Linked DNA regions of Homo sapiens. The protein of the gene in region 5 interacts with the protein of the main gene of each other region in a biochemical or structural test. Each region holds a gene or a part of one and is shown on either strand. Other genes may lie near its edges.

Region 1 (4,322 bases), about 35 Mb from region 5:
AGCAATTCTCCTGCCTCATCCTCCTAAGTAGCTGGGACTACAGGCATGCGCCACCATGCCCAGCTAATTTTTGTATTTTTAGTAGAGATGGGGGTGTCACTATGTTGGCCAGGCTGGTCTTGAATTCCTGACCTCAAGTGATCCACCCACCTCAGCCTCCCAAAGTGCTGGGATTACAGGCGTGAGCCACTGCGCCCGGCCTTCTTTCCTTTTTTTGAGGTAGGGACTCGCTCTGTCCCTTAGGCTAGAGTGCAGTGGCGTGATCACAGCTCACTGCATCCTTGAATTCCTGGGTTCAAGCAATCCTCCCGCCCAGCCTCCCAAGTAGCTGGGTCCACAGGTGTGCACCACCATGCCCAGCTAATTTTTAAAGTTTTGTGTAGAGACAGGGTCTTGCTATGTTGCCCAGGCTGGTCTTGGACTCCTGAGCTCAAGCATTTGTCCCATCTCAGCCTCCCAAAGTGCTGGGATTATGGGCATGAGCCACCATGCCCAGCTGAAGCTCAGCTTTCTGTGTCTTTCCCTACCATGGAGACAGTAGCAGGGACCAGAGCAGAGTTGGGACAGGGGCTTGGCAATCAATAAGCTGCTTATTTAGGGGAGACTCCTCCTCTTCCTTGATTGAGAAGGTAATATCTGGCTGGGGCAGTGGCTTACACCTGTAATCCCAACCGCTCTGAAGGTTGAGGCAGGAGGATTGCTTGAGGCCGGGACTTTGAGACCAGCCTGCCAGCCTGTGCAACATAGCAAGACCCCATCTCTTAAAAAAAAAAAAAAAAATTAGCCAAGCATGGTGGCATGTGCACGTGGTCCTAGCTACTCGGGAGGCTGAGGCGGAAGGATTGCTTGAGCCCAGGAGTTCAAGGCTGCAGTGAGCCATGATTGTGCCACTATACTCCAGCTTGGGCAACAGAGCGAGACCTTGTCTCAAAAAAGAGAAAGAAAATAAAAAAAGTAATATCTGATCATTGTAAAAAAAACTGGGGGCCAGCCGCGGTGGCTCACGCCTGTAATCCCAGCACTTTGGGAGGCCGAGGCGGGCGCATCACGAGGTCAGGAGATCGAGACCATCCTGGCTAACATGGTGAAACCCCGTCTCTACTAAAAAATACAAAGAATTAGCTGGGCGTTGTGGCAGGCACCTGTAGTTCCAGCTACTGTGGAGGCTGAGGCAGGAGAATGGCGTGAACCCGGGAGGCGGAGCTTGCAGTGAGCCAAGATTGTGCCACTGCACTCCAGCCTGGGTGACATCTGTCTCAAAAAAAAAAAAAAAAAAAAATTGGGAAGTTTAGAAAAGTTTAAGAGAAAAGAAAAAAAATCGCCCATAATCCTAAAAAGCAACTTTCATTAAGGTCTCTTCCTCTTTTTTTTTTTTTGAGACGGAGTTTTGCTCTTGTTGCCCAGGCTGGAGTACAGTGGCACAATCTCAGCTCACTGCAACCTCTGCCTTCTGGTTTCAAGCGATTCTCCTGCCTCAGCCTCCTGAGTAGCTGGGATTACAGGCACCTGCCACCATGCCTGGCTAGTTTTTTGTATTTTTAGTAGAGACGGGGTTTCACCATGTTGGCCAGGCTGGTTTCAAACTCCAGACCTTGTGATCCACCCGCCTTGGCCTCCCAAAGTCCTGGGATTACAGGCATGAGCCACCACGCCCAGCCAAGTCTCTTCCTCTTTTCTTAGCATCCTTTTTTTCTTTTTTTTTGAGACGGAGTCTCGCTCTGTCACCCAGGCTGGAGTGCAGTGGCAGGATCTCGGCTCACTGCAAGCTCCGCCTCCTGGGTTCATGCCATTCTCCTGCCTCAGCCTCCCGAGTAGCTGGGACTACAGGCACCCGCTAACACGCCCGGCTAATTTTTTATATTTTTAGTAGAGATGAGGTTTCACCGTATTAGCCAGTATGGTCTCGATCTCCTGACCTCGTGATCCGCCCGCCTCGGCCTCCCAAAGTGCTGGGATTACAGGCATGAGCCACCGTGCTCGGCAACATCCTTTTGTTCTTTAGCCTTGATCTTGATGAGCTCATCCCCTGTATATAGTAACATTTTTTTTTTTTGAGATGGGGTCTCACTGTGTTGCCCAGGCTGGAGTGCAGATCTCAGCTCACTGCAACCTCCTCTTCCTGGGCTCAAGCGATCCTCCTACCTCAGCCTCCCAAGTAGCTGGGACTACAGGCACATGCCACCACGCCCGGCTAATTTTTGCATTTTTTTGTAGAGACAGGGTTTCGCCATGTTGCCCAGACTGGTCTGGAGCTCCTGAGCTCAAGGGGATTCACCTGCCTTGGCCTCCTAAAGTGCTGGGATTACAGGGGTGAGCCACTGCACCCTGCCTACAGTAACAGATTTTAGCCAAAACTTTATTCCAATCCTGGTTTTCCAGCATGTGTTGTACAATAAACAGATGGATCTTCCCAGGAGAGGGTTATATGTAGGGATCCTTGCAGAATCACACCCCAGGGAGTGGGCCTCAGTCAGCTGGGATCGGAGCTGCTGTTATTGAGAAGTGGGCCGCCCCTGGACCCCAGGCTGCCCAAGCCCCACTGGTGGTGGTTGGAGGCAGTGGAATGAGAGTACTTGTGTATTTTGCGTCACCAACACACGTCAACCTTTTGTTGTTGTTTCCTGGTGTGGGGTGAAGTGTTTTTCCATTCCCAGGAGTCCCGGTTTGGGGTCATCTGCCAGTTTGGGAATCTGCCCACGGGGGTCACCAGCAGGGAACGGAGCTCCAGCTGGAGCCCTCTCCAGGGGAGCATAGAGGTCCCTGGGTCGAGCCACTTGGCCGTGGCAAATTCCCTCTCCTACAAATCCCCTTCATTTTCCTACCCGGGTTTGTTTGCTTTGGGAAGGAGCCCAGAAGGAGGAAAATAAACAGCAGCTGGGTCGGCAGGCCTGAGCCTCCCCCAGGCCCCAGCTCATCCTCAGGCCACAGCCTGGGCTGCTCTCCAGACTGGAAGTGAGGGTTTTCCTCCGGAAGCCTAAGACCAGCTTGTCTGACAGCTCCTGCTTCAGTTCTGCCCTCTTGGAATGGACCAGCTTGCTGATGGAGACCACAGTGTCTGCCAGAGAACCTGTAGTCTGCAGGAGGTTCCGTCCTGGAGCTGCCAGCCAGAGGGGAGAGGCCTCCTTGGGCAGCCCCAGCCTGAGAGGGAAACAGGCCCTCAAGGGAAGCCATCATGTCCATCTCTCTGGACTTTCTAGAGTCTGTGTCTGTGCTTGGAACTGCTGGCCAGACCTCAGCAGGAGCCAGGGACAGAGTGGGGAAGGTGGGGGCTGGAGATCCTGCTGAGCCCAGCTTCCCCCTGGGACTGCTATGTGGGGAATGTTCACGCCTGGCTGTGCAGCTGCCCCTGGCTGCAGGAAGCAGCATGGACTGGGCATAGGGCAGCCAGTGTCTCCACCTGGCGTGAGCGAAGTTCCACTCCCCTTCTCCTCAGCCATGTTCCCTTGACCTCCCCAGGGCCTGGGAGGCAGCTCCCTACCTAGTCCCCATCTCAGGGGTCAGAGAAAGCAGCCAGGGCTCCCCCAGACAGACTGCCATCCACCTTGCCCGACAGGTCTCTGTGCCAGCCCTCGCCTTTTTAAATTTTTATTATTTTTCTTTTTTTTTGAGACAGAGTCTCGCACTGTATCCCTGGCTGGAATGCAATTGGTGCGATCTCGGCTCACTGCAACCTCCGCCTCCCAGGTTCAAGTGATTCGCCTGCCTCAGCCTCCCGAGTAGCTGGGATTACAGGTGCCCACCACCACGCCTGGCTAATTTTTTGTATTTTTAGTAGAGATGGGGTTTCACTATGTTGGCCAGGCTGGTCTCAAACTCCTGACCTTGTGATCCACCCACCTTGGCCTCCCAATATGCTGGGATTACAGGCGTGAGCCACCGCGCCTGGCCCCCTCACCTTTTTGTTTTGAGACACGGTCTCGCTCTGTTGCCTAGGCTGGAGTGGCATGATCCTGGCTCACTGCAGCCTCAATCACCTGGGCTCAAGTGATGCTTCAGCTTCCAGAGTAGCTGGGACTGCAGGTGCATGCCACCATGCCCGGCTAATTTCTTTTTATTTTTTGTAGAGACAGGGTCTTACTATGTTGCCCAGGCTGGTTTCGAACTCCTGGGCTCAAACGACCCTCCCACCTCCGCCTTCCAAAATGCTGGGATTATAGGCACGAGCCACTGCGCCAGCTGGCTTCCGCCTCCTCTGCCATCTCTTTGTTCTTCTAGCATGAGAATGCATGCCTTTCCTGTGGACAGAGGGCTTCCAGAGTCACAGTGACAAAAGAAGTCACTTGATCATCTCCATTTTACAGATGAGAAAATGAGGCTTAAGG
Region 2 (4,322 bases), on a different chromosome or scaffold from region 5:
TTTGTGGTTTTTTTTAGACAGAGTTTCGCCCTTGTTGCCCAGGCTGGAGTGTGATGGCACGATCTCGGCTCACCGCAACCTCAGCCTTCCAGGTTCAAGCAATTCCCAGCCTCAGCCTCCCGAGTAGCTGGGATTACAGGCATGCACCATCACACCCGGCTAATTTGATATATTTTTAGTAGAGGTGGGGTTTCTGCACGTTGGTCCGGCTGGTCTCAAACTCCGACCTCAGATGATCCACCCACCTCGGCCTCCCAAAGTGCCGGGATTACAGGCGTTAGCCACCGCACCCAGCCCGAATTAAACTCTTCTTAAGAGGTAGGACTCCCTTGGCTCGTTTCCTCCAGTTATACCTAGGGTAAGGGCAGCGTGTTCTCCACACTCCCCTTTCTCATCCTTAACAAGTCAAAAAAGACCAACACGCCTGCCCAGCTTTAAAAAAAAAAAATGAAAAAAAATTCTTTTGCTTTTTGAGACAGAATCTGGCTCTGTCACCCAGGTTGGAGTGCAGTGACACAATCTCGGCTCACTGCAACCTCCACCTCCCTGGCTCAGGCAATCCTCCCACCTCAGCCTCTCAAGTAGCTGGGACTACTGGCATGCTACCACACCCAGCTAAATTTTGTATTTTTTTTTTTCCTAGAGACAGGGTTTGCCATGTGCCCAGGCTGGTCTCAAACTCCTGGGCTCAAGTGATCCATCTGCCTCAGCCTCCCAAAGTGCTGAGATAACAGGCATGAGCTGTGTCCAGCCCCAACTAAAATTTGGGAGGATGGGGTTGCCATGGAGCACCCAGTCTTAATTACAAGGACTAGAGAAATTCTGCCCCCTCCCTTCCTCAGCTTGTCCAACAGTCAGAACTCTCTTCTCTCTCCTTCTTTCTCTTCCTCTCTCCTCTTGGTGCCTGTTGGACCTCACTGGTGACAGTGACACTGTAGCAGGTGGGGGGAAGTGTGGCCAAAAGGGCAACATTAGATGCAAACCCAAAGCCTAAAAATAACCCCACCAACTTCTTCAGGAGGCTCTCCTGGCCATCCCACCATGTACACCCCAATGCTCCACCCAGTGTAACCAGACCCAGGCAGAGAAGAGTGCTTTTGGCCTCCTAAAGTTAGATATGAGCAGCTCAGCACTTTTACTCTGCTCCTATATGAGGACCAATGACAGACACTTCTGCCCCCGGCCCCATGCAGGCATCTATTTCCACTCTCCCCCAGCCACTCAGAGAGGGTGGAGGAGGAAGAAAGGAAATGGAGAAGGCCCTTCTTCCTCAGCTATACCATCCTGTGCCTGGCCCCTCTCCAGTCTCCTCTTTCTTTGGAGAAGGAGCCTGACTAGAATATATCTTGAAGGACCGTTTCAGTCTCCACACCTGGGGCTTCTTAGGGAATAGACTGACCCTTTAAATGGAAGAATGGCTCAAATGGGAGGTGGCTGTAAAAACTCAATTAACTCTTTCTAGGGTTGCCAGATTTAGCAAATCAAATATAGGATACCACTTAAATTTGAATTTCAGATGCACAACAAATTTTTATTTTTTTTTTTTAGATGGGTTCTCTGTCACCCAGGCTGGAGTGCAGTGGTGTGAACATGGCTCATGTTCATGCATCCTCTACCTTCCAGGCTCAAGCCATCCTCCCACCTCACCCTCCAGAGTAGCTGGGATTACAGGTGTGCGCCACCAGACCCAGCTAACTTTTTAATTTTTTGTAGAAACAGAGTCTTGCCATGTTGCCCAGGCTGGTCTCCAACTCCTGGACTCAAGCAGTCCTCTTGCCTTGGCATCCCAAAGTGCTGGGATTACAGGTGTGAGCTACCACACTTGACCCAAATACTTTTTTAGTATAGATATGCCTCCAAATATTGCTTGGGACTTACTTATACTAAAAAAATTATTCATTTGCATCTGAAATTCAAATTTAAGTGGACATCCTGTATTTTTATTTTAATGTCCCAAATATTGCATGGGACATATTTAAAAAAGAATTCATTGTGCATCTGAAACTCAAATTTAATTGTATATTCTGTATTTTAAAATTTCAATTTTATTCTTTGCCTTATCTTCTTCCTTTTTTCTTTTTTCTTTCTTTTTTTTTTTTTTTTGAGACAGAGTTTCACTCTTGTTGCCCAGGCTGGAGTGCAGTGGCACAATCTGGGCTCACTGCAACTCCACCTCCTGGGTTCAAGTGATTCTCCTGCCTCAGCCTCCTGAGTACCTGGGATCACAGGAACCCACGACCACGCCCAGCTAATTTTTTGTATTTTTAGTAGAGATGGGGGTTTCACCATGTTGGCCAGGCTGGTCTCAAACTCCTGACCTCAGGTGACCCACCTGCCTCGGCCTCCCAAAGTGCTGGGATTACAGGTGTGAGCCACCATGCCTGGCTGCCTTATCTTCTTTCTAAAATTTTTTTAAATTTTTATCTTTATGTCCCAAATATTGCATGGAGCATACTTCACTAAAAAATTATTCATTGTGTATCTCAACTTCAAAATACAAGACTGGACTGCCCCACTGGGCATCCTGTGTTTTATCTGGCAATCTATCTTTAACACTTACCTTTACTGGGAAGGAATTTTCTCCCTAAGGGTGTGGTATTCTCCAACCCTTCAGTGGCTCTATGATGAAAACTGGGTTTCAGAGGTGGGCTGTAACTCACCCTGGAGCTGTTGCGGGCTCAATATATCTGGGGGTTTAACAAATTTATAAATTTTCAGGGAGGGGATGTTGACTGCATTTTGGAGGTTCAGGGCCTACTAACAAGCTGTCAGAACAGGCACCAGGCTTTGAGATAGTGATAAAGTTCCAGACTCACCATTGAGCTGTCAGAGAAAACATCAGGGTGGTTCTCATAAATAAACTTCTCCACCCTCATCTGCCGCAGTTTGAACATCTTGGAGCCCCGGTTGGTAAGCAGCGACAGTTCCTCCAACATCACATCCCTTGGGACACTGATCTTTTTGCCCAGGTTCAAGCCTGAGCTCTCCTGTCCACCTTTCAGGGAGGCAAAGAAGAAGAATCAAGGGAAAGAGGAAAGTAGGGTTTTCTGGGCTCAGAATGCAGACCTCATCCACAACTAAGTGTGTATGTGTGTCCTGGCAGAGGTCATTTAGGGGAACAAATGCTGTCTAGTTTGTGAGGGATTTTGATTTCCTGGGACTTGGAGAGAATGCATGGGAACTGGGGTGCACTGTGGAGATAATGGGAATACTAGAGTGGAGAGGCCAATGGGGTAAAAGAGGTACGGGCATGGGGTACAGAGCAAAAGGAGTAAAGGAACATCATAGATGGAGGCCATTGGAGAAACCATGGCATCAGGAAAAACCCAGAGGCCAATCTTGTGTGGAGTCCAAATACAGATGCCATATATATATATATATATATATTTGTTTTTATTTTTTATTCTTTTTTTTCATTTTTTTGAGACAGAGTCCTGCTCTATCATCCAGGCTGGAGTGGAATGGCGCGATCTCAGCTCACTGCAGCCTCCGCCTCCCAGGTTCAAGCAATTCTCCTGCCTCAGCCTCCCAGGTCGCTGGGATTGCAGGCCTGCACCACCATCCCTGGCTGATTTTTATATTTTTTGGTAGGGATGGGGTTTCACCATGTTGGCCAGGCTGGTCGCAAACTCCTGAGCTCAACTGACCTACCAGCCACGGCCTCCCAAAATGCTGGGATGACAGGCGTGAGCCGTGGCGCCCAGCCTACATTTTATTTATTTATTTATTTATTTATTTATTTATTTATTTATTTATTGAGTCAGAGACTTGCTCTGTCTCCCAGGCTGAAGTGCAATGGCGCGATTGCAGCTCACTGCAACCTCCATCTCCTGGGTTCAAGTGATTCTCCTCCCTCAGTCTCCCAAGTAGCCGGGATTACAGGCACCCGGCACCATGCCCAGTTAATTTTTCTATTTTTGTAGAGACAGGGTTTCACCATGTTGGCCGGGCTGGTCTTGAACTTCTGACCTCAGATGATTGGCCCACCTCAGCCTCCCAAAGTGCTGGGATTACAGGCATGAGCCACCACGCCTGGACTTTTTTTTTTTTTTTTTTTTTAATGGAAATGAGGTCTCATTATGTTGTCCAGGCTGGTCTTGAACTCCTGGGCTCAAGTGGTCCTCTCACCTCAGCCTCCCAAAGTGCTGCGATTACAGGTATGAGACACAGCCCCAGCCCTATTTGTATTATTTATTTTGAGACAAAATAAATATATCTTAGGATGAACTCTGTCACCCAGGCTGGAGGGTAGCGTCGCAATCATGGCTCACGGCAGCCTCCACCTCCCGGGTTCAAGCGATCGTCCCACCTCAGCCTCTGGA
Region 3 (3,074 bases), on a different chromosome or scaffold from region 5:
TGTTCCTCTCGGTTCTTCCAGAGTGAACCGCCCCCAGGGCCCAGGACAGCTTCACCCCAGTGACCCAGCCTCTCAGGGACTCCAGCATGGTCATCCCACTGCCTCTCAGGTGGTCACAGTGAGTGCCTCATAGGAACCCAAGTGGATGTGTTGGCCCAGCCCACCCAGTGCCCTCAAGCCCATGGGCCCCTCCCCTGTTGTCCCCCATGTGGCACCAGCCCTCAGTGAGTCCACCCTCTACCCTCCTGAGGAGCCTTGAAACGGCCTAAGGCAAGAGTCTGAACTTGGCCCAGATCACGGGGCGTGAGCTCTGGGGGCCATTCATGCCCCTCCCCCATCTCCTGCCCACAGTGTGCCAGGCTCCACCGCTGATGAGCCTCAAAGCTTCCAGGTCCTGCCTCCCTGGGGCCTTGGCCTGTGCCCTGCCCTCTGGCTGGGATGCCCTTCCCTTAAGGAATCTTCACAGACTTCGGTCTCCTCCTGGAGGTCGCCTCTTCCTGGAAGCCCTCGCTGTCCCTTCCATGACACGGAGACAGCCTAGCCCAGGCTGCTGCAGGCCCCACGTGGGCAGCAAGGGGTGAAGGAGGCTTAGAGAGGGCAGGTGGACGGGAAGATGAAGGCTAAGGGGAAGGGGGCCGGGAGCAACCCCTGAGGGTGGGATGAGGGGGACAGTGAACCATGGTGAACCACCCTGCCTCAGTTTCCCTCCTCCAGACCGACCCAGCCACCCCCTGCCAGCACCTGTGCCTGAGGGGCAGGGCCTTCTGGAGCGCTAACCCACCTGATGCGCCCATCCTCCCCACCCTTCCCAACCCACACACGCAGACCCGCAGACATTTTGTTTATTTATTTAAAACAAACATCTGTGCGCTATGTACAGGCCCGGCTCCCAGGGAGGTGGGCGGGCAGGGGGCCAAGCTGGGTGGGAGAGCGATGGCAGCTGGGGGTTGGGGGGGGTCTGGCCCCTTGCCTGGCCAGCAGGGTCAGCTTCTCCATTCCTGCCACCTGCCAGCTGGCCCAAGCTGATGGCTTCCCGCAGGACAGCCACCTCCCTGCAGGAGAGCAGGGCCAGAGGAGCCTCTTCTCAAAGCAAAATAAATACGGGACTGACCCAGCTCCGCCCACAGCCCGCTCTCGGCATCAGCCTTCATCGTAAGAGAGAAAAGCTGGTTCCGAGGCCGGGCAGGAGAAAGGCCAGCAGTGCCTGGTCCAGCCGGCGTCGCCTTGGGCGGTGAGCAGTGCCAGGCAGGGGCGAGGGGCCGGGCAGACCCCGAGGCTTTAAGGCAAAGCAGGGCAAGGGTGTACGCAGCCCGGGCCGGGTCAGCCTTTGGCACAATTAGGGGCGGCAACCGCAGTGACCACAGGGCATGGCCGAGTACAGGGGCTGGAGGACCAGAAGCCCCTTGGTCCTGAACCTCCACTCCAGGCCCTGGCAGGCACTGGGGGACTTCTGTCCCCATTGTTGAGTCCCTGGCCCAGCTCTGGGTGGTCAGTGGAGCGTGTCCTCCCTGGCCCAGCTCTGGGTGGTCAGCAGAGCGTGTCCGTGTTGAAGGACAGCTGGGCCTGTGCACAGGGGAGGTCAGGCTTATGGGGCATCCTGTGCCACCCCCTGCTGGGGCTGAGGACACTTGTGCTGGCCCGCCCCGGCCCTCCTGCAGGCTGGGCCTGGACGCAGGGTCTCCCCACGAGCTCCCTCTGTGTCTGGGCTCTCCCGGGCCTCCGTCTGCCGAGTCTGGGGGCCACTGAGTCTACATCGGTCCCCTGTTCCCCGGCTCTGGTCCCCTCTGCCCCACCCTTGCTCTGTGCCCCTCAAAGACTCTAGCAAGTCTGGACCATGCAGTTACGTCTCTCCAGGCCTATCTGCAAGTGTCCCTCGCCCACTCTGCCCCCTTGACCTCTGGACAGCAAGCATCCTGGGGCCAGTTCTCCCCCGACCCCACCCGCGGCTGGAGCCACCAGGCAGCCTGGGTCCAGTGGGCAGAGCCCTGGACAGCCATGAGAGCAGCCTGCTCACCCGCTCCTCCTCGAAGCTGATGAGGCCCTCGTCCTCCGTGTCCAGGTCCTCGGGCTCGTCTGCCACAAGTGCCCGGAGCTCCGTGGGGGCAGACCGGGGCCGGAGCAGGCTGAGCAAGCAGCCGAGAGGGGACTGCAGTGCGGATGGCGGCTCCGTCTCCTGCTGCTCCAGGTTGTCACTCTGCTTCTTGGCAAAGTTCACGAACACCTGGTGGGTGGCGCAGGCGTGTGGGGAGGGGGCTGGTCTGGGGTGAGGAGGGGCAGGGCGGGTGAGGGGAGGGGCAGGTGTGGTGCGCAGTGCCCTTGGGGCGCTCACATTGTCCAGTGTGGTCTGGCTGACCGAGTAGTCCTCGATGCCCAGCACGCCAGACACCTGCTCCATCTTGCTGAACACCTGGGCCAGCGAGATGTGCTCCGACTTGAGCTGGTACTGCACCTTTGTGTGGTGCCGCTCCTGCAGGGGGGGAGGTCAGAGGCCTGGCAGCGCCCCCCCACCCCGTAGCGCCCCCTCCACAACCCTGCCCGGGACGGCGCACCTTGAGCATGGCTTCCGGGAAGTTGCGGTTGAAGAACCGCACCACGTCCTTCACACTCTGGCTGCTCTTGGTCCGCACCGTGATCATGTAGCCATCTCCAAACCTGGTGGGACAGGCCGGTGGCCCGGAGCCCTGCGCCGCCCAGCCAGAGCCCCAGCCCCCCAGCCTCCCAGCCCTACAGCCCCCACAGGCACCCCAGGAAGCCCCATAGCCTCCCACAGCCCCCCAACCCCACAGCCCCCACAGCCCTCCAGGCTCCTCCCCTGGCCCCACTGCCCCAGTCCCCCCAGCCCCAGTGCCCCCAGCCCCCCTGGCCCCACAGCCCTCACAGCCCTGCAGCCACCCCCACTCCTGGCCCCGCTGCCTGGCCGCCCCCCCCGGGCCCGCCCCAGCCCACCCCTGGCCCTGCCCCGGCTCACCGGTTCTTCAGGTGCTGGATGCTGCCCAGGCACCGCAGGCGACCGTTCACCATGATGGCCAGCCGCGTGCACAGCGCCTCGCACTCCTCCATGCTGTGGGACATGC
Region 4 (4,314 bases), on a different chromosome or scaffold from region 5:
AAATACATAGTTTAAAAGTGAAGAGTAGGCTGGGTATAGTGACTCAGGCCTGTAATCCCAACACTTTAAGAGGCGCCAAGGTGGAAGGATCACTTGAGCCAAGGAGTTTGAGACCAGCCAGGGTAACAAATAGCAAGATCTTCTTTGTCTCTACAAAAAATAAAAAAATTAGCTGGGCATAGTGGTGCACACCTATAGTCCCAGCTACTAGAGAGGCTAAGGCAGGAGGATAACTTGAGCCTGGAGTTTGAGGTTTCAGTGAGCTATGATTGCACCACTGTACTCCGGCCTGGGTGACACAGTCAGACCTTGTTTAAAAAAATTTCTTAAAAAATCAAGAGTAAATATCAACTTTTAGCCTTAGACTATGTCCTTTTTACTAGGAAACTAATGTCTAATTATAACCAAAACAGGCCTACTTGCTTTAGAAAACAGGTATGGCTACATTTATGTCTCAAATCTGTCTTAAGTAGAGCAGTTCTTATAAAACTGGTGTCTGGTTTTTAAATTTTACACTTTAAGTGCTTTAAATATACAAGTTGAGTATCCCTAATCCAAAAATCTGAAATCTTTAAGATGCTCCAAAATCGACATGACACACAAAGGAAGTGTTCATTAGAGCATTCTGGATTTTCAGGTTAAGAATGCTCAACAAGTATAACGCTAATATTCTAAAATAAAAAAAAAATCAGAAATCCAAAACACTTCTGGTCCCAAGCATTTCAGATAATGGATACTCAACCCATACCATATTTTTAATACTTTAAGCCATTGTATATTGCATAAGAGATATTTTGCTATAATTCACTATTTATTATACAGAAGTTTGATCAGGTTAAAGGATAAACTATTTTCTTGAGTTTATATTCTACCCAGATCAATACAAAATCTTTAAGATTATTCAATAATATACCAAAGGGCCTCAATCTCAGGGGAAAAACTAGTGGGCTGGAAATTTTCAAAAACACATACAATTTAAGTGATTAAAGTTTAGACAAATCCTATTTGTACCAATGGCTTCAGAAATACTACAATAGTAGAGCTGAAAGAGATCTTGGCTGCCATCCGTTTAATCTCATTTCTCCTTCAGAAAAACCAGGGTTATGGTACTGAACTATCGTTTCCTGTCTCCCCTCAGGTAGCTGAAAATAAGGTCATAATAATTACTGATATTCCCACATTCCTTCAGAGTTTACAAAGTATCTCTTTGTTTATTATCTCATTTGTTCCTTACAATTATTTTGTGTGGTAGACACAACAGTCACTACTACCGGGATTTTTTTTTTATAACAATAGATAAAACTGAGACTCAGAGAAACTAAACAAAATTTTACCAATTTGGCATGGCTCATGGAGCCAATAGGTAATTTGAACCCAAGCTGTCTGATACTCTTTCCATCACTCATGCTGCCTCCCTGTAGATGAGATGATAAAGAATATAACTTAAATTTGGGCCAGGCACGGTGGCTCATGACTGTAATCCCAACACTTTAGGAGGCTGAGGTGGGCAGATCACTTGAGGCCAGGAGTTAGAGATCAGCCTGGCTAACATGGCAAAACTCTGTGTCCACTAAAAAAAATACAAAAATTAGTTGGGTGTGGTGCACACCTGTAATCCCAGCTACTCAGGAGGCTGTGGCAGGAGACTTCCTTGAACCTGGGAGGCGGAGGTTGCAGTGAACCAAGATCACGCCACTGCGCTCCAGCCTGGGCAAAAGAGCGAGACTCTGTCTCAAAAAAAAAAAAAAAAAAAAAAAAAAAAAAGAATATGACTTTAGTTTGAATGAAATATAATTATCTGATTATCAATTCAATGCATCATTACATTAGAGTTTAGAATTCTGAATGGTATAACAAAATAGTACTGCATGTCTTTTTTACTGAGTTTCTTTCTGTTGCTGTTGCTTTTTAACATTTTAATATCAACATACAAATTTCATAATACCTTGGTTTGATTTAATACCTTTTTTATAATATTTCAAATACTTGAATTTTTGTATTAATATATAGCAAAAGAACATAAAAGAGCACCAATGTTTATCTACAAACCACAGAGCAAAAAAGTTTTAGAGGGAGATTCAGTGAAACTAGAATGCCAGATCTCGGCTATACCTCCACCAAAGCTTTTCTGGAAAAGAAATAATGAAATGGTACAATTCAACACTGACCGAATAAGGTAGGATATGTATTTCTAGACTTACTATAGTTTATTTGGGTGAATCCAGTTATACTTTTTAACATGCATTATAAATGGCATGCATTTATCTCAATTTGTCTAGTTTTTAAAACACTAAAGAATAATATAATAAAATATATATTAGATAAAAATGTAAGAAAACTTCAGTAAGCCAGATTCCACTAATCAGAAATGTAAGGCATAAAGTAGACTAGGATTTATCTTTTTATCAACGATGATGAAAGATGGCCCAAGGAAATAAATGACATAAACAAGATTAAAGGGGGATGTTTTCTTTTCTTTTCTTTCTTTACAAAAAGCTTCAGCCTTTATTAAACAAAGGAGGAGGTAGGAGACAGATAACGGAACAGGTCAGGACCCCTCCATTCCCCTATACATACGCATAAATACAAACACAGACACACCCGAGTGAATGACAGGGACCATCAGGGGACAGATTGAAGAGCAGAGGGAGACAGCACCCAAGGGGGGATGTTTAATTCAAGAAAACCAATAGCTATTTGGCAATAAATAGATACAGCTTTGGAATTTTCAAATGTTTTTTTCTTCCTAGTCTGACTGTTGGTCAGAGACATCCACTTCACAGAAATAATTCCTGTACTTTCATTTCTTAAAAATTTTTATTTCAGCTTATATCAAGATAACACTGGAAGAGTTACTTTACTGATAAAAGATGTAAACAAGAAAGATGCTGGGTGGTATACTGTGTCAGCAGTTAATGAAGCTGGAGTGACTACATGTAACACAAGATTAGACGTTACGGGTATGTCATACTATTAACCAAAGTATTATAAGGGATTTAACTAGGAAGATTTAATAAGAAATGAAAATCCCAGCAGAGTATAAAATTTGAGATATTTTCCCCATATATAATCAGTTTTGGTTCTTTTTTCTTTTCCTGTCTGATAATAAATACCTAGTGTGACCAATTTGGTTAGAACAGGTTTTCTGAATCAACTTTTATGTGATCTATTTCAGCACGTCCAAACCAAACTCTTCCAGCTCCTAAGCAGTTACGGGTTCGACCAACATTCAGCAAATATTTAGCACTTAATGGGAAAGGTTTGAATGTAAAACAAGCTTTTAACCCAGAAGGAGAATTTCAGCGTTTGGCAGCTCAATCTGGACTCTATGAAAGTGAAGAACTTTAATAACTTTACCAACATTGGAAAACAGCCAACTACACCATTAGTAATATATTTGATTACATTTTTTTGAAATTAATCCATAGCTGTATTAACAGATTATGGTTTTAATTAGGTAATATAGTTAATATATATTTATAATATTATTTATCCTTTGACTCTTGCACATTCTATGTACCCCTCCGATTTGTGAAGCCTACAGGAAATCTGGGTATATGGATTTGTAACTGCAGAAGACTATCTTAAAATACAGGATTTTAACATTTAAGTCATGCACATTTAACAATTACAGGTTATAAATTAGTATCAACTTTTTAAACACATCTAATGCTTGTAATAACGTTTACTGGTACTGCTTTCTAAATACTGTTTTACCCGTTTTCTCTTGTAGGAATACTAACATGGTATAGATTATCTGAGTGTTCCACAGTTGTATGTCAAAAGAAAATAAAATTCAAATATTTAAAACGGACTGTCTCCTCTTCACAAAAGTCTAGATCTGTAAAATAAAACTCCACTCAGCAAAACCTATGAATAACAAGTTCCAAAAGAGCAATGTTATATTCTAGAACAGTGTGAAGCTCACTTACAGCTCAGCCAATTCCTCTAGAAACTAAGCTAGACTTGCCATGGTTTGCACTTCAAAGGCAATCACAAGAACTTAAATCATGACTGAATCTACTGAATTTGTGATTTTGTTTTAACCAAACAGGTTTCTAATTCTTCAGGATTTTTCAGTCTGTTATGCTCAAAGGAATAAGAATAGTCTCTAGAGATTACCTGCTTAATTCTCATAGTTAATGTAAATTTGACAGCCCGGTAGTCCCAGCTGCTGGGAGAGGTTGAGCTGGGGATCCCTTAAGATCAGGAGTTTGAGGCCAGACTGGGAAATATAGCGAGACTCCATCTCTAAAAAAAAAAAAATTATGTAAATTTGATTACCTATATATGGGTGTTTTTCCTCTAATAATT
Region 5 (3,797 bases):
GCAGCAAGTGCTGGGGCCAAGGCAGGGGCCAGGGCTCACCTTCCATCTGCGTCACTGTCTCGTAGCTCAGAACCGAGTCTTCTCGACCTGGTGGGAGGTGGGGCATCTGCAAGGGGCTCTGAAACAGGGGACCTGGAGCCCTGTCTCCCCCTTGAGGATATCAAAAGCAACTCAGTGCTCCTCTCACCCACATCTTCCCGAACTAACCCTACCTACCCTGCGATCCAGAGCTGGAGCCCCAGTCCTAAGAAGAAAAAGCAGGCCACGGGGTTAGTTATGAGCTCAGCTCCATGAGCCCTCACACTTCCACCCAGGCTCACACCCTCCTCCACCTACCTTGGCCTTTAACCTTGACCACTCTCGTCGCTCAACCCTGTGGGATACATGGAGGGATACGCGGGTAGGGGAATGCCTACCCCCTGCCACCCCCATGCTCTGAGCCAGCTGACAACCCCTTCTCCATACTCTGGGCCAGCTGACACCCCTTCTCCTGCAGCCCTGGACACTGTGCTCCTCAATAAGGAGTTGTCCTTCCCAAAGGCTCATGGGAGCCACGGACCCCAGGAGGGCCCAACAGACAAACCCCTAGGAGTTCAGAGGGCAAACCCATCCCCTGTTGGCTGCCCACCCCGGGGGACCTTGGGAACTTCAGTGCCTGTGGCAGGAAGGCTACAGAGCCCAGGAGCCTCACCGCCGTTTGCTGGGGATGAACCCAATGTCGTCGGTCTCACTGTCAGAGTGGACCCGCCGTGCCTGCCACCACTCCTCATCACTAGCATCGATGACATGCAGCACATCCCCAAAGCGGAAGCTCAGGGCCTGGCTCAGGAAGCCGCAGTCCTTGGTCTTGTCGTAATCAAACAGGGCCCTGGAGGGCAAGTGGCTATCGGTCAGAGCCCAGCTGAGGACTCCAGGAAGGATGCCCCAGTCACCCAAAGACCCGGCCCAGAGGTCTGCAGATGGCACTCCCATGGGAGCTATGGATGCCGAGGAACCCAAAACTGTGTGGGGACCAAACGCTGACTATAACTCATAACAACTATTAGCCATCACTCAGTCCACACTGAGCACAGTTTCCAGAGGCAGGGCTTGAACTTGACCCTCTCAAGAAAGCAGTTTGGGCCAGGCGTGGTGGCTCCCACCTGGAATCCCAGCTGACTTTGGGAGGCCAAGGCGGGCGGATCACAAGGTCAGGAGATTGAGACCATGGTGAAACCCCGTCTCTACTAAAAATACAAAATATTAGCCGGGCACGGTGGCGGGTGCCTGTATTCCCAGCTTCTCGGGAGGCTGAGGCAGGAAAATGGCATGAACCCAGGAGGCGGAGCTTGCAGTGAGCAGAGATCACGCCACTGCACTCCAGCCTGGGCAACGGAGCGAGACACCGTCTCAAAAAAAAAAAAAAAGAAAAAGAAAAAGAAAAACAGAAAGCAGTGTGCAGTACACACGCACATCATAAAGTCACAGGGGTAACCCTGAATCTGCCCAAATTCATAAGAAAAAGAAAATGTCCCGTGTTTCCAAATAATGGTTACCCTTACCAGTATCAAATTTCTATCAGTAAGTCACAACCCCTGGGGTCAGAACCAGGGAAGTAATGAAGACACAGAAGAAAGCAATGGGCCTGGAGAGGAGGGAGGAGACCCCGGGCCCCCTGGAAGTGTGACAACCAGATGACATTCCGCCTGGGAGCCACTACACAACCTCTGTGGTCACTGGGAGTCAGAACAACCTTGGGGACCAACCGGACCCGAGCAGGGAGGAAGGGCAGAGCAAGGGCTCAGGTGGGAGCCAGTGTCTGGGTGGCTGGTGATGCCATCCAACAAGAGGGAAACTGCTGGCACAGCAAGATGGAACCCAGGCCCACAGCAGGATGATGAGCTCAGCGTGGGACATGTTGAGTGTGGGACGCCTGTGGGACATCCCAGTGGAGATGGCCAGAAAGCCAATGGCCAGAAGTGCAGGTCTTGACCTCTGGAAATAGGTCAGCCAGGGCCAGCACCTCCGAGAGACATCTGCAGAGCGCAGCGGCAGACGAGGCCATGCAAGCCACAGGGCCAGACAGGGACAGAAGTGGAGGGGTGACCCCCGGGGGCGGGAGAGAGGTGTGTTTTGGCAGAAACCTAAGCCACAAAAAGAGTCAATGGAGACGAGCCCTAAGAGGGGAGCAAAATGCCGCTGGAGAGACGGGGGCAGGCACCACAGAGCTGCGGCCCACGTCTCCGGGACTGCCCACAGGGACGTGAAGGCTGGGGCAACACTCCAAATACCCTAGAGGACCCTGCTTCACCAAGCATTAACCTTCGAGACGCCAAATTGTGGGGTGGCCTGGGAGTCCCGGGGAAGTGCTGGGATGACCAGGGGCTAGAAGGCAATTGGGATACTTGGGGCAGAGGCTATTTTCCCATCGACAGGGAGTATTTCAAATGTTAACCTGTGCAGCCAAGCCCATGAACCCTGGCTGCGCCTCAGGCCTGGGGTGGGGAGCTAGAGCAGGCAGGGTGGAGAAGAGGAGCGGCTGAGGCCCGGGCCAGGCACAGAGTGCCCAGGAACGCAGAGGGGCTGAGGAGTCCAGCCCGGGAAGCCTCTGACCTGATGTAGAAACCCCTTTTGGGGTTGCTCCGCAGGGACGCAGTCCCTGAGCCCAGGCTGCTGTTCATGAGCTGTTCCCGAAGGTCGTGGATCTTGGCCTCGAATCGGCTGTACTCTGAGGAAGGACAGGGAGGTTTCTGAGCTCTGTCCCCATCCTACTGTCACCCCTGTCCTCCCCTACTGAAGCCATCAGCTGAGGAAGAGTTCTAAGGGCCATTTCAGCTCACAAGACAAGGAACTTCCGGCCTGGTACCTTCTGGTTTATACTGAGCGATGATCGTGACCGTCTGACCCGCATTCTTCAGGGCAATGGCAGCCTGCTCATGGCTGGCATTTCGGAGGTCCACACCGTTGACCTAGAGAGAGGACGACAGGCTGTGTCACCAGAGACAGGAGGCAGCACTTCTGGGTCCAGGTGGAGCAGGGAGTGGTCCCGCAAGAGGACTCGGCTGCAGCCCATCCAGGCCCCTCCCCAAGAGCTCTGCGCTCTGCCCTGTGGGGAGGGGGTGGTGCAGGTAGGGGCAGGCCTTCCCTCACCGACAGGATCTGGTCCCCCTTCCGCAGCTCCCCACTGAGGTCTGCAGGGCCCCCGGCCAGGATAAAGGAGATGAAGATGCCTTCACCGTCCTCGCCACCCACGATGTTGAAGCCCAGGCCCGTGGAGCCCCGGTGGATCACAATTCGCCTCGGTTCTCGGGGAATGTCTTCCTCCCCGAGCAGGTCCTTGGCCACTGGAGAGTAGCGCCGAGGGGAAGTGGGGGTCATGGCTGTGGGGTAGTCGGTGCCCAGGTAGCTGCTGTGACTGATCTCATTGTCCAGGTGCTGGGAATAAGCTGAGGAAGACAGGGCAGAGATGAAAGTGCCTGGAGGGAAACAGCACCCGCCACCCAACCTTCTCCCCAGGGTGCCAGAAGAGCCAAAGTTAGGTGGAAGGGAAGATATTCTGCCAGAGATGCCAGGGTGGGGTGGTAAGGGGATATCAGATCACAGTGACATCAGGGGTCAGGAATTTATAGGTGACATCAGAGGCTGGTTGTCCTAGGGGATAAAGGATTTGAACGTTATATGTCCTCAGTATGCCAGGGATGGGGAAGTCAAAGGGAGCATTAATATTACGCTTTGGGGGTTTTCTCTGGGTTCCTGTGTCACTCGAATCTCTTAATCCATAAAATTCTTCTCCCTCTTTTTTCCCCCCACCTCTCTGC
Region 6 (4,812 bases), on a different chromosome or scaffold from region 5:
TTTCAGCTTCACATTAAAAAAAAAAAAATGAGACATAATTAAGGGACCATAAAATTCACCCGCTTAAAATGTACAATTCAATAGTTTTTAGTATACTTAGTTGTGCACTCATCATAATCCTAGAATATTTTCATCCAAAAAAGAAAACCTGTACCCATTATTCAGCTTCATTTTTAATCGTGTATATCTCCCCCCAGGAGTGGTAATAAAACTTTCAGGCTGGTCACCTTCCAACGAGAAAAAACATGCAGCCTGGGGCTCCATGGGAACGGGTTATCACTTGGCAGGCCTGGGTAAACAAAAGGCTTGAGCCGGCCCTGCCAAGATGTCTTTTTCAATGTTTTTGAAAAGATAATAAATGTGCATGGCAGTGGTAAAAGTGCCTACTTAGGAGGCAACCCGTTTAGCAGTTTCTTGTGTGTCTTCTCGGAGAGATCCTCCTCAGAGGTTTTTTGTTTTATTTTGCTTTTGAGACAAGGTCTCTGTCGCCCAGGCTGGAGTGCAGTGGCGTGATCACTGCAGTCTCGACCTCCCGGGCTCAAGCGATCTTCCCGCCTCAGCCTCCCAAGTAGCTGGGACCACAGATGAGTCGCCATGCCCAGCTAATTTTTAAAATTTTTTTGTAGAGACGGGGGTCTCGAACTCCTTAGCTCAATCAATCCGCCCGCGTCAGCCTCCCGAAGTGTTGGGATTACAGGCGGGAGCCACCACACCCGGCATCGCGGAGGTTTCAGTCAGCATTATTTACGCCTCAGGAGAAGAGGAACCAAATTGGCTGCGGAGTAGGGTGTCGTTGAAAGGCCTAGGTCGGCCTACGGCGCGTGCCGCTGCCTCTTAGTTGAAGATCGACCCCAATAGCTTGCTGCTGTCCCTCTCTGGGTGACCGCACGCTGAGGGTGGGGCGTCACTAAACACTGATTACCCGTGCGCCTCGAAAACTGGAACCTAACTATGCATGGAGGGCGGGTCCTCTGGCGTCTGCACAGATGTCACTGGCCCAACTGGCACCCACCTGGGGGCCTAGCCAGAAATTGTTCCCAAGGCTGCATTGCTGAGTTTGCATGCAGACACCCAGTGAGTGTAAGCGTGTGCGTGCTGAGTGAGCACGTGTGTGCGCGTTATGTGCTCTGTGTTCACACATTGAGTGAGGATGTGTGTGCACGGTGTCTGAGAAACTGCACCCTACATCTACACACGCTTTGAGTGTGTATCTGCTACTGTGAGAAGATGCATTTACGCTGGGTGTGCACGTTGTGTGTGCATGTTGCATGTAAGCATCGTATGAAGAACTGTGTGCGTACGCACGCCTTCTGTGTGTGCACTGTGTACAGCAGCGTGTAAGGACGCGTGCACGCCCGTACGCGCTGTGTGAGGACTGTTGTGCACATTGCATGCACACGCTACAAGCGCGCGCCGCGTGAGAACCGGTGCGCCTATCGCACGTGCACGCCCTGCGTGCGCTGTGCGTGGAAGCGGTGCGCCTATCGCACGTGCACGCCTTGCGTGCGCTGTGCGTGGTAACCGGTGCGCTTATCGCACGTGCACGCCCTGCGCGCGTGCTGCGTGAGGACGCGTGCGCATGCGGACGCGCGCGGGTTCGGTGCGGCGCGGCGGGCTTGGCAGTGCGCCTGTGCGGCCGGCGCATCCCGATGGAGCGCGGCGGCGGCGGCTCCGGGACGGGATCCCGGCCTGAGGGGACTGCGCGGGGAACCTCTCTCCCAGGGAAGATCGCAGAACCGGGCGCGGTGCGGACCTCTCAGCCCAACTACCGGCCTCAAGGTATTATCCCCAGAGTGTGGCGGGCGCCCGAGGGCTTCGGGTTCCTGTGGGGGGGCGGGCCCGGCGGCCCAGGGCAAAGGTCCTCGAGCGTGGGGGGAAGGGGCACGGCGCAGAGCTGAGATAAACGCCCTTTCCCTGGCCCAGGATCGTCCGGACGTGCATCCAAGGGCCGCACCCCTCTCTGTGCGAGTGGCGGGGTTCTTTCTTGGGGCGACCTGGGTGAGTGGGTACACATGGGGGGTGGCTTAGGGTGGGCGGCAGGTGTGTTTGGGATGGAGGTGCCTGAGGGGGTGCTGCGGGTCCAGTCCCCGTCCTCGAGGAGCAGCCGGCATGGGGGTCGTTAGGATAAACCGAGCGGGGTTCTGGGGTTGCCCCGGCCTCCGCGCGCGCTCTCTCTGCGTTCTGGGAAACGCGCGCGAGCGCCGCTGCAGCCCGCGGCGAAGGTGGCCCAGCTTCGCGCCTCTTGGCGTTTCCAGGGGGCAAAATCGGCGTGTCACCCATTGGCAGAGGCAGATTCGCCCGGGCGGCCAGGCGTCTGCCCCGGACCGGGTGCTCCTCCCGCCCGGATGCGCTCCCTGTCTTGGGAACGCTGCTCAGGTGGCCGGGCCGCGGCCCTCAATCGAGGCAGCGGGGCAAACAAGGCTCTCAGCCCTCGAGGCTGCCGATGCTGGGAGCCATGGAGGGCTGGTCCCTGGCTGCCCAGAAGCCAGCGAGGCAGCGGAGGAGACTGTGAGGACATTTGGCAGGATTTTAGATAAGCAGGTCTGATGCTAACGTTCTGTAAAGTGGTTGCAGGTAGTGCGGGGGTGTAAGCAGCATGGAAACCGATTTCATGCTGTTTTTCCTGACAACAACTTTTTTATTTTTAGTTAATAAGGCAGGCTATTTTTAAAACATTTTTTATTGCAGTCTAATATGCATTTAAAAAACCACACAAAACTATAATTCGATGAATTATCACATAGTGAAGATGGGAGTATTTTATATACGATGGGCCAAGAAAAGGAAAGAAATCAAGAGAAATCTTCTTAAAACACGCTTTTTCACTGGGGTTGAGGGGGCGAGGTAGTATTTTCTGACTGGGCCTTCAGTTGCATCATTCTTAGGAGGAGGAGATAGCTTAAATCATTTCCAGTTTGTATTTTTCATTATGCTATTTTAAAGGCAGAATTCATTAACTGTCACAGGATAACGTTATAACTACCTTTGAAATGTGTGCTTTTGTTTTTATCCTTTTTGCTTGAAACACTCAAGCTGCATCTGCTAGGGAAGAACCTGGAAACTACCCACCAGAACGACCCTCCGTGGCAGAGGCGACCTTGTATAATAAAACACTGAAAAGGAGAGGTTGTTTCAGTTTGCATTTTTATTTGGTTGAGAGCTTAAATAATAGTTTGTTTCGATGTTCTGTTGTACTCATGAGAGGTGGGGAGGGGCGGTATGATTGGGTTTTCAGTGTATCTTGGATTTTATTTGAAGGAACTTAAGGGGTTTTTTTTTTTTTTTTTTTAATGGAAACAAAATTGGGGAAGGGGAGGAGGTACTTTTGCGGGGGAGATTCTTAATAAGTTCTGTTTGGAAACTATTGTAGAATCATTTAATGCACTCTTCTGATATTAAGATTAGCTTAAGGATATCTTCCTTCATTTGAAATTGGAAATATAGAAAAATATGTGTGAAGGTTTAAAATGTGAAATAAGCACCTATGTGCATTAAGGTTGGTATGGTAAAATTGGAATGTTTAATTTAGGTGCCAGGTGATACCACCATTTGTTGTTTGGGGGAGTTAGCAAGGCCAGGTACTTAAGTAAAGTCTCCTTAGAAAAATTATGATTTTGAGGTTTTATAATTATCTGTCCTGGATACTGATCATTCTTGGTTACCCAGGCCCTTAGCATTTGGGACCCATTCCTAATGAGACTTAACCTGCTTTTCTAGAGAGTCAACCATTGTTCCTAAGCTTGGGCTGGGTGCTGTCAAGGCTGCAAAATACAGAAAGACCTGAGATGTTTAGGCTGTCCAACAATTTTGTGTTGCACACTTAGGGGATATGAGTTGGCAAGTGGTTTTCCTGGGAGCTGTGTAAAAGACGGAAAGGAAATACCGCTGGTGGTTTCCTCTAGCAACAGGTTCTTCCGATATTGAAATCCTGTGCATGTTCCCATTACCCCCTAGTGATGCCTTCTTTCTTTCCTTTTAATTACCTCTGAATAGAAATTACCAGATCTACTGTCCATTTTAGTGCTTGTCTGATACACATAGTATAACAAATGAGCAAGTGCTTGTTTCAATCTGCTTAACAACCTTTAACCAGCAGATAGAATCACCAGATCTCAACCATATTTCCTTTCTTTCTTTTTAGATGAAGTCTCACTCTGTTGTCCATGCTGGAGTGCAGTGGCACAATCTTAGCTCACTGCAACTTCTGCGCCACCATGCCCAGGATCCCAGCACTTTGGGAGGCCGAGGCAGGTGGATCACTTGAGGTCAGGAGTTTGAGACCAGTCTGGCTAACATGGTGAAACCCTATCTCTACTAAAAATACGAACATTAGCCGGGCCTGGTGGCGCATGCTTGTAATCGTAGCTACTTGGGAGGCTGAGGCATAGGATCGCTTGAACCCAGGAAGCGGAGGTTGCAGTGAGCTGACCTCGCGCCACTGTACTCCAGCCTGGGTGACAGAGCGAGACTCCGTCTCGAAAGAAAAACAAAATAGGGTGGGGCCTGGAGATAGAGAGTAGGTGGTTATTGGAGACTGCGAAGGGTACTGGGGGGTGGGAAGGAGGTAGGAATGGTTAATGGGTATAAAAAAATAGAATGAATTAATAAGGCCTGGTATTTGATAGCACAACAGGGTAATTATAGTCAATAATAATTTAATTGTTCATTTAAAAATAACTACTAGTATGACTGGATTGTTTGTAACACAAAGGATAAATGCTTGAGGGGGATGGCTAACCTGTTTTGCATGATATGATTATTTCATATTGCATGCCTGTACCAAAACATCTCATGTACCCCAGAAATATATGC
Region 7 (5,055 bases), on a different chromosome or scaffold from region 5:
TAGCCAGTATGGTCTCAATCTCCTGTCCTTGTGATCTGCCTGTCTTGGCCTTCCAAAGTGCTGGGATTACAGGTGTGAGCCACCGTGCCCGACCTTTTTTTTTTTTTAAAGACAGGATCTCACTCTGTCAACCAGGCTGGAGTGCAGTGCCATGATCATAGCTCACTGCAATACCACCACGCCCAGCTAATTTTAAAATTTTTTGTGGAGTGGGTGGGGGGGGTCTCCCTATGTTGCTCAGGCTGGTCTTGAGCTCCTGGGCTCAAGTGATCCTCCCGCCTCAGTCTCCCAAAGCACTAGGATTGCAGGTGTGAGCCACCATGCCTGGCTGTGGCTGACCCTTTGTATGCCTAAATCAGGCAGTCATTGGCTACCCCTGTCAGTGGGGGTGAAACCTCCAGGTGGTTTCTAGGCTAGCTGACTCCTGCCAGCCAAGCACAATTCTCCAGAGAACACAGGCATATAAGCCTTGTCCACCAGCGAAGCAGCAGCTGGGGCCGGGCACATTGGTGGTGAAGGCCTTCTGGGTGAGACATCAACAGTGTTTGCAACAATCATTTAAAGAGTTATTTAACATCAGGCTGGGTGTGGTGGCTCATGCCTGTAATCCTAACACTTTGGGAGGCTGAGGTAGGCAGATCACTTGAGGTCAGGAGTTTGAGACCAGTCTGGCCAACGTGGTGAAACCCTGTCTCTACTAAAAATACAAAAAAAAGCCGGGCGCAGTGACTCACGCCTGTAATCCCAGCACTTTGGGAGGCCCAGGTGGGCAGATCACCTGAGGTCTGGAGTTTGAGACCAGCCTGATCAACATGGAGAAATCCCCCTCTCTACTAAAAATACAAAATTAGTTGGGTGTGGTGGCGCATGCCTGTAATCCCAGCTACTCGGGAGGCTGAGGCAGGAGAATCTCTTGAACCTGGGAAGCAGAGGTTGCAGTGAGCCGAGATCACACCACTGCACTCCAATGTGGGCAGCAAGAGCGAGACTCTGTCTCAAAAAAAAAAAAAAAAAAAAAGAGAGAGTCATTAAACATCAAAAGGAAAAGAAAGCAAGCAATATGCAGACTGACTCTATAGAGGCTGGCTCTTTTCTCCCCTTGGCCTCTGCTGTCTATACTTACTAGTTGGCTGTCATTGAAACTTAACAAATGGCCAGGTGTGGTGGCTCATGCCTGTAATCCCAGCAGTTTGGGAGGCCAAGGCAGGCAGATCACCTGAGGCAAGGAGTTCGAGACTATCGACAAAGTGAGACTCCATCTCAAAAAAAAAAAAAACCAAAAAAAGAAAGAAAAAGAAACTTAACAAACATATGTAGAAGTCTTGGCTCTAGATAACTGAGAGAAATAGGACTGGCTTAGTGAGTTGCCAATTATATTCTAATAATAGGATTCTTTATTAAAACAACTGTGGAAGAAAACAGTGTTTGCTTTTTATTCCTTTTGAAATCTGGGGCACTTTGCAAAATGGAAATCAATGCCTCGACTTGCATTGGTGTGTGATCTGGGGTTTTTGCTTCTGCAGGAGAAGCCCTATCTGGCTTATTGGCTGCCTGCCTTGCCCTATGTCTTTCTTTCTTTTTTTTTTTTTTAATTTGTATAAATGTGTGAAGTACAAGTGTAATTTTGTTAGATGCATACATCGCATAGTGGTGAAGTCAGGGCTTTTAGGGTATCCATAACCCCAACAATGTACATTGTATCTGTTAAGTAATCTCCCATTATCCTTGCCCTGTCATCTAAGGAGTGGGCTTGTTACTTTGGACTGAGCCACCTGGGGCTAGAGAAGAGAAGGCATTGAGTGAGGGAAACGGGCTTGGGAATTCCGGAGATTGTTATCCTGCCCTGCCCGCTGTCTGAGGGGATTCTCCTCAAGTACCCTGGAATGTTCCTGTGGCCCCTGTGGATCGCCACCACAAAGATCATGAGGTTCTGTTGCCCTGGCAACCCGTTGTCCAGCGCCTCTGCACTGGGGCTGCCAAGGTTCCAGGAAGAGGCAGGACTGCCCGGCCCAGCCTTGGAGGAAGACTTCTGGGCAGAAGCGGAACACAGGAGCAGAGACACATAGTCTTGGCTCCAGTTTCGTTTCAGTTATGCCCACCCTTTCAGTGTTCATGGATGTGCCCCTCGCCCACAAGCTAGAGGGCAGCTTGTTAAAGACCTACAAACAAGATGATTACCCGAACAAGATATTCTTAGCCTATAGAGGTAGATGCCTAGCAGTTCTGAAGTATAAGACTTAAGTGATGGTAACTGCCTCTAGGAGGACAGTGTTCCCTGCTGCAGGGGGAGGGGTGCAGCCCAAGCTTCTGTGGGTGGAGAGATCTTTTCTTGTTAACAGAATTACCCAGTGGGGAAAAGTGCAGATAAGGTCCCAGGTCATTCCATGCTCTCTGCCCTTCTCTGGGGGCTTCTAGGGATTTGGTGAGAGCTATGTCCTCTTCCACAACTCTATGCTTGGGGGCCTGCATGGCCATCCCACACTTCTTCAGATTCTTACCTCCTCTCTCTCTCTTTCTCTTTCTCTTCCTGTTCTTGAACCAAGAATGGTTCTCCAGATTGAGCTTTCTGCTATGCAACTGGGGCTCACCACTGTGAAAGTCAGGGTTACCTTTATTTAGCTTCATCTACCTATAACTCTCATTTTGCATATATATATATATATATATATATATATATATATATATATATTTTTTTTTTTTTTTTCTTGAGACAGGGCCTCACTCTGTTGCCCAGGCTGAAGTGCAGTGGCAAGATCTCAGCTCACTGCCACCTTTGCCTCCTGGGCTCAAACCATCCTCTTGCCTCAGCCTCCTGAGTAGCTGGGACTACAGGCGCTGGTCACCATGTCTGGCTGTTTTGTATTTTTTTGTAGAGACAGGGTTTCATCATGTTGCCCAGGCTGATCTTGAACTCCTGAACTCAAGTGATCCACCCACCTTAGCCTCCCGAAGTGCTGGGATTACAGGCCTGAGCCACCAATCCTGGGCTTGTATAATTTTTAACCTTTAAAATGGCATAGGTTTCAGTTGTCTTTTTTAAAAAGACAAAAATAATACACATTCACTAACAGCATATTCTTTTCATCAAGGAGAAAAGAAAAGGGAAAGTTGTATTTTCACAGGCACCTTCCCACAGCCCCATGGAGTCCAGGAGAGATTTGTTTGCAGGCTGTCTGCAGAGCTCAGCCCTGGGGGCCCAAACCAGGCATCTGGAGCTCCCTCTGTGGTTTTCCTCACAGTCTGCATGACAAATGAAGGCCATCCCTGGGTTTCTCTCGTGGTGCAGAAGACTCGACTACAGATTTCACAGGATCCCTCCCTGAATTATGAGTACTTGCCCACCATGGGCCTGAAATCATTCATCCAGGCCTCTCTAGCACTCCTCTTTGGAAAGCACAGCCAAGCCATTGTGGAGAACAGGGTGAGAAGGTGGGCCCTCCCCTGGCTCATTTAGACACAGAGAGTGGCGATCTGGGTCTGCACAACCTTAAACCCGAAGGGGACCTCGGAGGGCCCCCTGGTATTGATAAAAGAGATACCTGAGGCTCAGAGAGTCCACAAGTCCTTAGCCATCGAGTCAGGATCGGAATCTCAGTCCAGTGGTATTCCCACCTGCTCACACTGCTGATTTGAAAGCTCTTTCAAGACAGGAATGATCTGAATTGGAGGTGGTGTTAGTATTCCCATTACTGTTTTATTTTTTAACCTATTATATATATTTTTTGAGACAGAGTCTCACTCTGTCACCCAGGCTAGAGTGCAGTGGTGCCATCTCAGCTCACTGCAACCTCCACCTCCCAGGTTCAAGCAATTCTGGTGCTGCATCCTCCTGAGTAGCTGGAATCACAGGCATGTGCCATCACGCCCAGCTAATTTTTGTATTTTTTGTAGAGACAGGGTTTCACCATGTTGGCCAGGCTGGTCTCAAACTCCTGGCCTCAGGGGATTCCCTGCCTCGTCCTCCCAAAGTGCTGGGATTACAGGCATGAGCTACTGCGTCTCGCCTCCATTACTGTTTTAGAGTGTTATTTCTGTCTATTTCTTTTTATTTTTTAATGTTTATTTACTTATTATTTTTTTGAGACGGAGTCTCACTCTGTCACCCAGACTGGAGTGCAGTGGCCTGATCTCCGCTCACTGCAACTTCCGCCTTCCGGGTTCAAGTGATTCTCCTGCCTCAGCCTCTTGAGTAGCGGGGATTACACATGCCCAACACCACATCCGGCTAATTTTTGTATTTTTAGTAGATACGGGGTTTCAACATGTTGGCCATGACCTCGAGTGATCCACCCACCCCAGCCTCCCAAAGTGCTGGAATTACAGGTGTGAGCCACCACACCTGGCCTATTTGTGTCTATGTCTTGCTGGCAGGTAGGGGGTGTACACACTGTTGGTGACAGTGGTGCCTTCCAGCTTGGCGTCCAGTTTCTCAGAGCTTGGCATAAGGATGCTCGTATAGTTTACATCATCTCTTCTCAAAAAGGTTAGTCTTACCCAAGATGAGGGGAACAGCAATCCCCGTCCCTTGTTCCTAATCCTCACCCCATTTGCCATCTTCACTGTTATCCCTCATTCTCTGTCATGAGCAAAATGGCAGACAAGCCAAGCTATTTATGTCCTTTTCCTGTTAATGTCCCACCTTCAGCCAGTGACTCTCAGCCCCACACTCCAGTACCTCTGTCTCCGTCTCTCTGTTTCCCATGTACCAGCTAGTGGGGGGCTGTGTTCCCACAGAACTGCATGGACTCGTCTTCCAGGACATGGGCTTTACAGTTTATGAATACTCTGTCTGGGACCCCAAGAAGCTATGCATGGACCCCGACATACTCCTCAATGTGGTGGAGGTAGAGGGGCCCCGCTCAGAAACTCCTCCCTAGAGCTGACTTACAGCCTAATGTTCCTCTCCTCCCCACACCTCTTAAGTCATCCAAGACCTTTTCCAGGTTTGAATTTGCCTGGCCCTTCAATGGTAACTAACATGGAGGAGCACTTCACCCCCAAATGCCCTGGGGCCGCCACTCCTGGGTGGGGGTGAAGCCTGATGAGACCGTCTGT

What was found.
Region 1: the proteins of DLG4 (region 5) and JUP interact in a test that uses a peptide from one of them, tested with the Homo sapiens proteins (one large-scale study listed by IntAct).
Region 2: the proteins of DLG4 (region 5) and MYOZ1 interact in a test that uses a peptide from one of them, tested with the Homo sapiens proteins (one large-scale study listed by IntAct).
Region 3: the proteins of DLG4 (region 5) and ABCA2 interact in a test that uses a peptide from one of them, tested with the Homo sapiens proteins (one large-scale study listed by IntAct).
Region 4: the proteins of DLG4 (region 5) and MYOT interact in a test that uses a peptide from one of them, tested with the Homo sapiens proteins (one large-scale study listed by IntAct).
Region 6: the proteins of DLG4 (region 5) and MAP7D2 interact in a test that uses a peptide from one of them, tested with the Homo sapiens proteins (one large-scale study listed by IntAct).
Region 7: the proteins of DLG4 (region 5) and GOT1L1 interact in a test that uses a peptide from one of them, tested with the Homo sapiens proteins (one large-scale study listed by IntAct).

Annotation. Positions count from the first base shown.
Region 1 is NC_000017.11:41,776,291-41,780,612, reverse strand, and holds part of JUP (junction plakoglobin), read left to right. Parts: intron 1-4,322. UniProt on the Homo sapiens protein: Common junctional plaque protein. The membrane-associated plaques are architectural elements in an important strategic position to influence the arrangement and function of both the cytoskeleton and the cells within the tissue.
Region 2 is NC_000010.11:73,634,928-73,639,249, forward strand, and holds part of MYOZ1 (myozenin-1), read right to left. Parts: intron 2,996-4,322; coding exon 2,817-2,995; intron 1-2,816. UniProt on the Homo sapiens protein: Myozenins may serve as intracellular binding proteins involved in linking Z-disk proteins such as alpha-actinin, gamma-filamin, TCAP/telethonin, LDB3/ZASP and localizing calcineurin signaling to the sarcomere.
Region 3 is NC_000009.12:137,006,402-137,009,475, forward strand, and holds the end of ABCA2 (ATP-binding cassette sub-family A member 2), read right to left. Parts: intron 3,062-3,074; coding exon 2,969-3,061; intron 2,653-2,968; coding exon 2,550-2,652; intron 2,468-2,549; coding exon 2,330-2,467; intron 2,222-2,329; coding exon 2,015-2,221; intron 1,564-2,014; coding exon 1,528-1,563; 3' UTR 833-1,527; downstream 1-832. UniProt on the Homo sapiens protein: Probable lipid transporter that modulates cholesterol sequestration in the late endosome/lysosome by regulating the intracellular sphingolipid metabolism, in turn participates in cholesterol homeostasis.
Region 4 is NC_000005.10:137,884,038-137,888,351, forward strand, and holds the end of MYOT (myotilin), read left to right. Parts: intron 1-2,010; coding exon 2,011-2,176; intron 2,177-2,826; coding exon 2,827-2,960; intron 2,961-3,175; coding exon 3,176-3,348; 3' UTR 3,349-3,814; downstream 3,815-4,314. UniProt on the Homo sapiens protein: Component of a complex of multiple actin cross-linking proteins. Involved in the control of myofibril assembly and stability at the Z lines in muscle cells.
Region 5 is NC_000017.11:7,193,628-7,197,424, forward strand, and holds part of DLG4 (disks large homolog 4), read right to left. Parts: intron 3,426-3,797; coding exon 3,130-3,425; intron 2,949-3,129; coding exon 2,846-2,948; intron 2,708-2,845; coding exon 2,593-2,707; intron 869-2,592; coding exon 692-868; intron 374-691; coding exon 337-373; intron 245-336; coding exon 217-244; intron 88-216; coding exon 40-87; intron 1-39. UniProt on the Homo sapiens protein: Postsynaptic scaffolding protein that plays a critical role in synaptogenesis and synaptic plasticity by providing a platform for the postsynaptic clustering of crucial synaptic proteins.
Region 6 is NC_000023.11:20,113,717-20,118,528, reverse strand, and holds the start of MAP7D2 (MAP7 domain-containing protein 2), read left to right. Parts: upstream 1-1,621; 5' UTR 1,622-1,649; coding exon 1,650-1,779; intron 1,780-1,888; exon of another isoform or gene 1,889-1,998; intron 1,999-4,812. UniProt on the Homo sapiens protein: Microtubule-stabilizing protein that plays a role in the control of cell motility and neurite outgrowth via direct binding to the microtubule. Acts as a critical cofactor for kinesin transport.
Region 7 is NC_000008.11:37,937,066-37,942,120, reverse strand, and holds the start of GOT1L1 (putative aspartate aminotransferase, cytoplasmic 2), read left to right. Parts: upstream 1-1,996; 5' UTR 1,997-2,091; coding exon 2,092-2,206; intron 2,207-3,239; coding exon 3,240-3,421; intron 3,422-4,371; coding exon 4,372-4,483; intron 4,484-4,734; coding exon 4,735-4,844; intron 4,845-5,055.